2 linked regions of the Homo sapiens genome follow. The protein of the gene in region 1 purifies or fractionates together with the protein of each later gene. This does not show direct contact. Each region holds a gene or a part of one and is shown on either strand. Other genes may lie near its edges. The genes, in order: SELE and CEACAM5.

Region 1 (3,820 bases):
CCACACTTGTATTGAATGAAGAAGTATGGAAGATTATAATATATTCAATGCAAGTAAAAATATCACAATCCTTAAGAACTCTTTAAGAAGCACTGAATCCCATAGGGATGAAAGTGATTAAATTGTGCATAGTAACCCTCGCACAGAGCATTCAGTAGGATTTGCACCATTAACAACCCTCCATGCATTTGCCTGTGGGCATTCAACATCTGTCATTTTTTTAAGTTATAATATTTTTAGTCATTTTTTTCCTCTAAACTCTGGATAATTATTATTCATTCTTATGACAGCAACTGTGTAATCAGCTGTCGAAACACTGTGAAGGGCAAAAGAAAGAAAGCCACAAAATATTGTGTTTCTGTGCCAAGATTTTACAGCGAGCAAGGGAGAGTTAGAAAAGGAATTCTGAGATTTCAGAGTCTTGGTCTCTTCACCTTTGCTTGGAAGAAAATATCCTTTCCCTTCATTAGCCAACACTTTCTTGATCCTGAGAGTAGGAAAGGGAACACTGAGTCTTTTCAGTTGAAGGCCGTCCTTGCCTGCTGGACTTTGATCTATTGAAGTGGTGATGGGTGTTGCGGTTTCAGCCATAAAGGCATCTGGCATAGTAGGCAAGAAGGGCCAGAGACCCGAGGAGAGTTATCTGTCTCTGTTAACTTCAGTGTATCCCTCTAGTTCCCCAGATGCACCTGTTTCTGTAAATATAAACATGCATGTCATCAGAACACTTAATATTCTGCATACTGATCATGACAACAAAATGTACCTTCTAACACAGACACTCTCACTAGGATAGACCATGTAGGAACATCGAATTCTATTCAGTTAGGACAGTGATGATGTCTACATATTATACCTCTGTCAAAACCTACAGAATATACAACACAGCACAGAGTGAATTCTAATGTAGCCTGTGGACATTAATGAATAATAATGTATCAATATTGGCCCATCAGTTGTAACACTAATATAAGATGTTAATAACAGGGGGAATTGAAGGGGTGGTGGGGAGATATGTTGGAACTCTTTGTGCTTTCTGCTCAATTTTTCTGTAAACTTAAAACCGCACACACAAAAAAAGTTATTTTAATTTTTTAAAAAGTATTCAGAGGGACTTGACCTTTCCAAATTCTCTCAAAGCAGGTCGGAGTAGTTAAGAACACAAATTTTAGAACCAGACTGCCAGAGTTTGAATCCTGGCTACACCACTTACTAGCTTTGAGATTTCAGACAATTTACTTAACTTCTCTGTCTCATTTTCTTCATCTGTGTGATAAGAAATAAAGTAACAGGCCAGGCCCAGTGGCTCACGCCTGTAATCCCAGCACTTTGAGAGGCCAAGGCGGGTGGATCAGGAGTTCAAGATCAGCCTGGCCAACATGACGAAAAAATACAAAATCTCTACTAAAAATACAAAAATTAGCTGGGTGTGGTGGCAGGCACCTGTAATCCCAGCTACTCAGGAGGCTGAGGCAGGAGAATTGCTTGAACGCAGGAGGTGGAGGTTGCAGTGAGCCAAGATCATGCCACTGCACTCCAGTCTAGGCAACAGAATGAGACTCCATCTCAAAATTAAAAAAAAAAAAAGTAAAAAGAAAAGATAAGAAATATAGTACCAGCCCCTATCTCAGAGTTCCTAGCTTAGAAAAATTCCCAGAATATAATAAGTGCAATGTAAGGGTCAGCTATCTTCATTATTATTATCTATCATAAATGAAATTACACAATAAAGCTAGATCCGTTTCTTTCCTCTCCTTCTACAAAAAATAAAGCAACTTTCCAGAACAATACCCAGGTGATGATTTCTCCCCTGCTCCCTCCCTAAGATATTGGCAAGTTTGGAGGGTTCAAGGAGAAACAGAGCATGTAGAGAAGATACCTCTCTCATAACCATTTGTGATTTACAAGTCTTACCTGATTCTTTTGAACTTAAAGGATGTAAGAAGGCTTTTGGTAGCTTCCATCTGATTCAAGGCTTTGGCAGCTGCTGTGGAATACATGAGAACACTAGGTAAAGCACTGTCTTCCAACATGAAGAGAGAAAAATATGTGGAATGTTCAATGGCATGCTTTGTATAAGAATGCAACTTACCTGGCAGGAACAAATTTCTTTGCTGCAAAAGAAAAGACAAACAACCATTAATTCAGACTAAATGACTTTTAAGGATATATTAAATCCAGATACAATATGACTTAATTCATCAAGTGTTGCAAACTCGATGCTTCAGGGCCTCTGTAATAATCAGAGCACAAGCATGGCTCTGTGGCATCTAGGGTAAAATGCAAAGTGCACAGCCATCCAAAGGGCATAGCAGCTTCCTAATGCCAGCAAATAGCTACGGGGTCATCTTGCCCAATTCAGCTCCCAATTTTTCATGAGAAGTCCAAAGTCTTAATTTAAATGTGAGATTTCCTATTTTGTAAACGTCAGAACTTAACTCAAAAATGTTTTAAGTACTCTTAAACATGTAAGCCAAACAAACCATGAGTGTAGTCAGATGTGCTTCCATATTCCTTATGAGAGACTCTCAAATTTAAGCCTGTACTCCAAATAAATCTCCTTAGGAAGAATTTTATCCATTTTCCTTAGAGTGCTCATCATGGCAGTTCCATTGCACAATTCCGGGAGGCATCATATAATTCAACATGAATAGCACCCCCTGGAGTTGTACAATATTAGGCACGACTAACATTTTTATTTCCTGAAACACTTCCCACACTGAGTTGTACTACTAACTCTTTTCTTAATACTTCTGCTTAATTATACTGCATTTTATCCAGATTCTAATTATTGTTTAAATCAGTAAGCAAGACCATGACTTATCAATGAGAAAGAAATGTATTTTCAAAAACATTTTTGAAGTACATTCATAAACTTCCTCACCTTTCCGTAAGCATTTCCGAAGCCAGAGGAGAAATGGTGCTAATGTCAGGAGGGAGAGTCCAGCAGCAGAAAGTCCAGCTACCAAGGGAATGTTGGACTCAGTGGGAGCTAAGGAAGTAAGAGACGAAGAAAGGTCATGAGGAAGAATTGATGTTAAAGTCTCTCCGTCCTGTCCCTTTGGCCTTTTTTCTGTACATTCATTACTAGGAGCAGAAGAGCTATCTAGTTTAATACAAGAAGCAGAGATGTGGCATTACAGGCCTTTGAGATCTGCTCCAAGCCACCTTTGAAGCTATTTCCACCATTGGCAGGCAGAACTCTAACTTGCCAAGCTCGTTCACAATACCACACCACACCTTGGTTAATAAACACTGCACTTGCTTGCTCTCTTGCTCTCACTCCCTCTTGTTTTCCATTTCCCCTTTCTCCTCTCCTCTCTCTGTCTCCTTTTTCCAGTTGTCAGAATTCTACCCTTTCCATCAACATGCAACTTCTGTTTTTTCTCTATCCCCATACAACTTAATATTCACAACTTGTCAACCTGGGCGAACTTTCTGGTTTGGATATAATGAATAGTTGATTACTGTAACAAGATAGCTCCCCCTTTTTCTTTTTAATCACCAGACAACCACCATCAATCAATGCATCACCTTCACAGGTAGGTAGCAGGCCAGACCAGTGTCCTGTGGCTCCACATGTCCGAGCTGCAGAGCCATTGAGCGTCCATCCTTCAGGACAGGCGAACTTGCACACAGTGCCAAACACGGGCTCCCCACTGCAGCTCATGTTGATCTTTCCCGGAACTGCCAGGCTTGAACATTTTACCACTGCAAATGTTAGGTACACAGGCAGAGTTTCAGAAAAATCTACTGGAAAACTTCCAAAACTTGCTTAAAAGTCAACAATGAATGTAAAGTGTAAGCGCTACTTAGTTTT
Region 2 (3,820 bases), on another chromosome or scaffold:
GTCCCAGGCTGCAGCTGTCCAATGGCAACAGGACCCTCACTCTATTCAATGTCACAAGAAATGACACAGCAAGCTACAAATGTGAAACCCAGAACCCAGTGAGTGCCAGGCGCAGTGATTCAGTCATCCTGAATGTCCTCTGTGAGTATATCTGCTCCTCTCTGGCCCAGGCTGCCAGCCCAAATCCACAGGGCCAGAGGCAGGATTTCTCAGTCCCTCTCAGGTTCAAGTACACAGACCCTCAACCCTGGACATCCAGACTGTCTGTGACTTTCTGCCCCAGAAAAACCTGGGCAGACCAAGTCTTGACCAAGAATAGGAGGGGAGGGGCTGCTTCTGTCCTGGGAGGCTCAGGGTCCACACCCTATGATGGGAGAAACAGGTGAATATCTCAGACTCAGGCTCAGTAGATACAAGAGGGGTTTGGCTGAGACTTTAGGATTGTGATTCAGCTTAGAGGGACACTGTGGTCCTTCCATAGACCAGGAACTTCCACTTCCCTCTGACAATATCACCTGTGGCTTTATTTTGTTTGCTCCAGATGGCCCGGATGCCCCCACCATTTCCCCTCTAAACACATCTTACAGATCAGGGGAAAATCTGAACCTCTCCTGCCACGCAGCCTCTAACCCACCTGCACAGTACTCTTGGTTTGTCAATGGGACTTTCCAGCAATCCACCCAAGAGCTCTTTATCCCCAACATCACTGTGAATAATAGTGGATCCTATACGTGCCAAGCCCATAACTCAGACACTGGCCTCAATAGGACCACAGTCACGACGATCACAGTCTATGGTAAGTGGATCCACGAAGCACTGACATCATGTTTTGAGGTGGAGTCTGTCTGGTTTTCAAACAAGAGCCAGGAAGACATTTTCTATCCCAGCCTGTGTCCAGTGGGCACAAGCAAATCCCAGATTCTCCCACTGAACCTCCCCAATATGTCTCTACAGACTCTTTTCTTCTTGTTCTGATTTCTCATGGCGGGCCCCAGGTCCAGCTTGGAATGTGGGGAGGAGGCTCCCTCAGCCCCACAGCCCTGTGTAGTGGAGGAAGCTTCACAGAGCGGGAAGGAGCAAGGGTTCTCAAGGTCAAGTTGCTTCTCTCTGTCACCAATGTGTCCCTTTCTGTCACCTCTTTGTGTTCTTTTGCCTACTCCATGAGCTACAAGCAACATTCAAGGCTTTGAAACAAGCTCATACTTTTTTCCCAAATGAGAGAAGGAAGCCCCTTGGGTGAGGGAGACACAGCTCAGACTGCTCCCTGCTCTGCTCTGGGCTCCCCTGGGTGACTGGCCTTGCCTGACTCCACCTAGGTGGGAACGAGGTGTGTGGAGAAGGAGCCCGGGTGGTCTGTCCTGAATTCGGCTAAATCAAGCTGCCAATCAACACCAAAGCTTCCCTTCGTCCCAGTCAGGCTGCAGGAAAATGGAAAGAGAGGGAGCCTCAGGGCAGACTCCTGAGCTGCGTCCTGGCTCTGATGTCACCAGCTATATGAGGCTGTGGGCACAGCACATGGGACACAGCACAGGGGACAGCAAGTGACCCACACTTGGAGAAATCAGGAGATTCACCACAGGGGCTCTGCACGGCAGGGAATGGCAGTGTCAAAAATCGTGTGTTTATACAGATGGTAACAGTACATATCTAACACAAACTTACCATCTTAACTTTTCTACACATGCAGTTCAGTGGTATTAAATATATTCCCCTTGTTCTGCTTCCATCACCACCATCTACCCACAGGACTCTTTTCTTCCTCCCAAAATGAAACTCTGTTCCCATCAAACTCCTGGGCAGAGCTGCCCCATCTATGGCCCACAGTCTGATCCCTGACTTGTCACCTCTAGACATGCTCCTAGTCTCCTGCACTATTTCTGCTCAAACATCCATCTCCATCATCACCTATCTCTAGGATGTCCTTAAATAGCAAAGCCTCAGAGCAAACACAACTTGGCTGGGTGGTGTGGGACTGTGCAGCTGGAAGAAACGCAGCTCCTTCAAATTCCAGGTGAGGACCCCAATGGGCCAGGCAGCCAGCCAGTCAGGAAAGGACCAGAAGTGCTGGGGGCTGTGACCCCCAGCCCTGTGTCTGTCCACAACCCAATGCTACTGCCCAATTCACACTTGAGAAAGTCTGTGCTTCTCCCACACAAAACAGCCAGCCTCATGGTCTCTGAGCCCTCAGATCATTGTGCATCTGTCTTGTGACGCACACACACCTGCCATGAGCTTTTAAGGACTCAGTTGGGCTGAGAGGTGGGAGATGCCAACTCTGATTGATAGATGCCCGTGGAGGAATCACAGGTGCCACACAGGGCAATCTTCTCTCTGTTATCTGCACAGCAGAGCCACCCAAACCCTTCATCACCAGCAACAACTCCAACCCCGTGGAGGATGAGGATGCTGTAGCCTTAACCTGTGAACCTGAGATTCAGAACACAACCTACCTGTGGTGGGTAAATAATCAGAGCCTCCCGGTCAGTCCCAGGCTGCAGCTGTCCAATGACAACAGGACCCTCACTCTACTCAGTGTCACAAGGAATGATGTAGGACCCTATGAGTGTGGAATCCAGAACGAATTAAGTGTTGACCACAGCGACCCAGTCATCCTGAATGTCCTCTGTGAGTATCTTCTGTTCCTCTGTGGCTCAGGCTGCCAGCCCAAATCCACATAGCCAAAGTCCAGGCCTCTCAGTCCCTCTCAGGCCCAAGGACAGAGACTTTTACCCCTGGACATCCAGGCTGGCCCTACCCCCAGCAAATCCATGCAGGCCCAGTCCTGACCAAGAATAGGAGGGGAGGGTCTGCTCCTGTCCTGTAACACTCGGGATCCACAGCTAGTGATGGGAGAAACAGATGAATGTCTCAGACTCTGGCTAATTGGATACAGTAGGGGTTTGGTTAGGACTTCAGGATTGTGACTTGGCTCAGGGGGACACTGTTGCCCTTTCACAGACCAGGAGCTTCCCCTTTGCTCTGATGACATTCACCTGTGGCCCTATTCTCTTTGCTCCAGATGGCCCAGACGACCCCACCATTTCCCCCTCATACACCTATTACCGTCCAGGGGTGAACCTCAGCCTCTCCTGCCATGCAGCCTCTAACCCACCTGCACAGTATTCTTGGCTGATTGATGGGAACATCCAGCAACACACACAAGAGCTCTTTATCTCCAACATCACTGAGAAGAACAGCGGACTCTATACCTGCCAGGCCAATAACTCAGCCAGTGGCCACAGCAGGACTACAGTCAAGACAATCACAGTCTCTGGTAAGTGGATCCCTGGACCGTTAGCAATATGTTCTGGAGCGGAATCTGTCTGGTTTTCAGAAAAGAGCCAGGAAGAAATTTTCTTTCCTAGTATGCATCCAATGGGCACAAGCAATCCCAAATTCAATCCTGAGCACTCCCAATTTGTCTCTACAAACACTCTTCCCCTTGTTTTTCTGATTTCTCATGGCTGACCTTGTGTCCACCCTGAGAAATGTGGGGAGGGGTCTTCATCAGCCCTGAGCCCTATGTAGTGGAAGGGGCTTCACAGAGGGGGAAGCAAGAAGGGTCCTCAAGGTCAAGTTGCTCCTCTCTGTCACCAATATGTCCCTTTCTGACACCACTTTGTGTTCTTTTACCTAATCCATGAGCTACAAGGAACAACTGAGGCTTTGAAACAAGCTCACACTTTTTCCCCAAATGAGAGGAGGATGCCCCTTGGATGAGGGAGGAGCAGCTCAGACTCTGCTCCCGGCTCCGCTCCGGGCTCCCCCAGTGACTGGCCCTGCCCTGATTTCACCTGGGGTGGGATCCGGGCATGTGGAG

The links.
Region 2: the proteins of SELE (region 1) and CEACAM5 purify together in Homo sapiens (co-immunoprecipitation; one study listed by IntAct). This does not show direct contact.

Annotation. Positions count from the first base shown.
Region 1 is NC_000001.11:169,723,815-169,727,634, forward strand, and holds part of SELE (E-selectin precursor), read right to left. Parts: intron 3,712-3,820; coding exon 3,535-3,711; intron 2,993-3,534; coding exon 2,885-2,992; intron 2,115-2,884; coding exon 2,093-2,114; intron 1,988-2,092; coding exon 1,930-1,987; 3' UTR 1,915-1,929; intron 696-1,914; 3' UTR 1-695. UniProt on the Homo sapiens protein: Cell-surface glycoprotein having a role in immunoadhesion. Mediates in the adhesion of blood neutrophils in cytokine-activated endothelium through interaction with SELPLG/PSGL1. May have a role in capillary morphogenesis.
Region 2 is NC_000019.10:41,715,109-41,718,928, forward strand, and holds part of CEACAM5 (cell adhesion molecule CEACAM5 isoform 1 preproprotein), read left to right. Parts: coding exon 1-141; intron 142-541; coding exon 542-796; intron 797-2,346; coding exon 2,347-2,625; intron 2,626-3,019; coding exon 3,020-3,274; intron 3,275-3,820. UniProt on the Homo sapiens protein: Cell surface glycoprotein that plays a role in cell adhesion, intracellular signaling and tumor progression. Mediates homophilic and heterophilic cell adhesion with other carcinoembryonic antigen-related cell adhesion molecules, such as CEACAM6.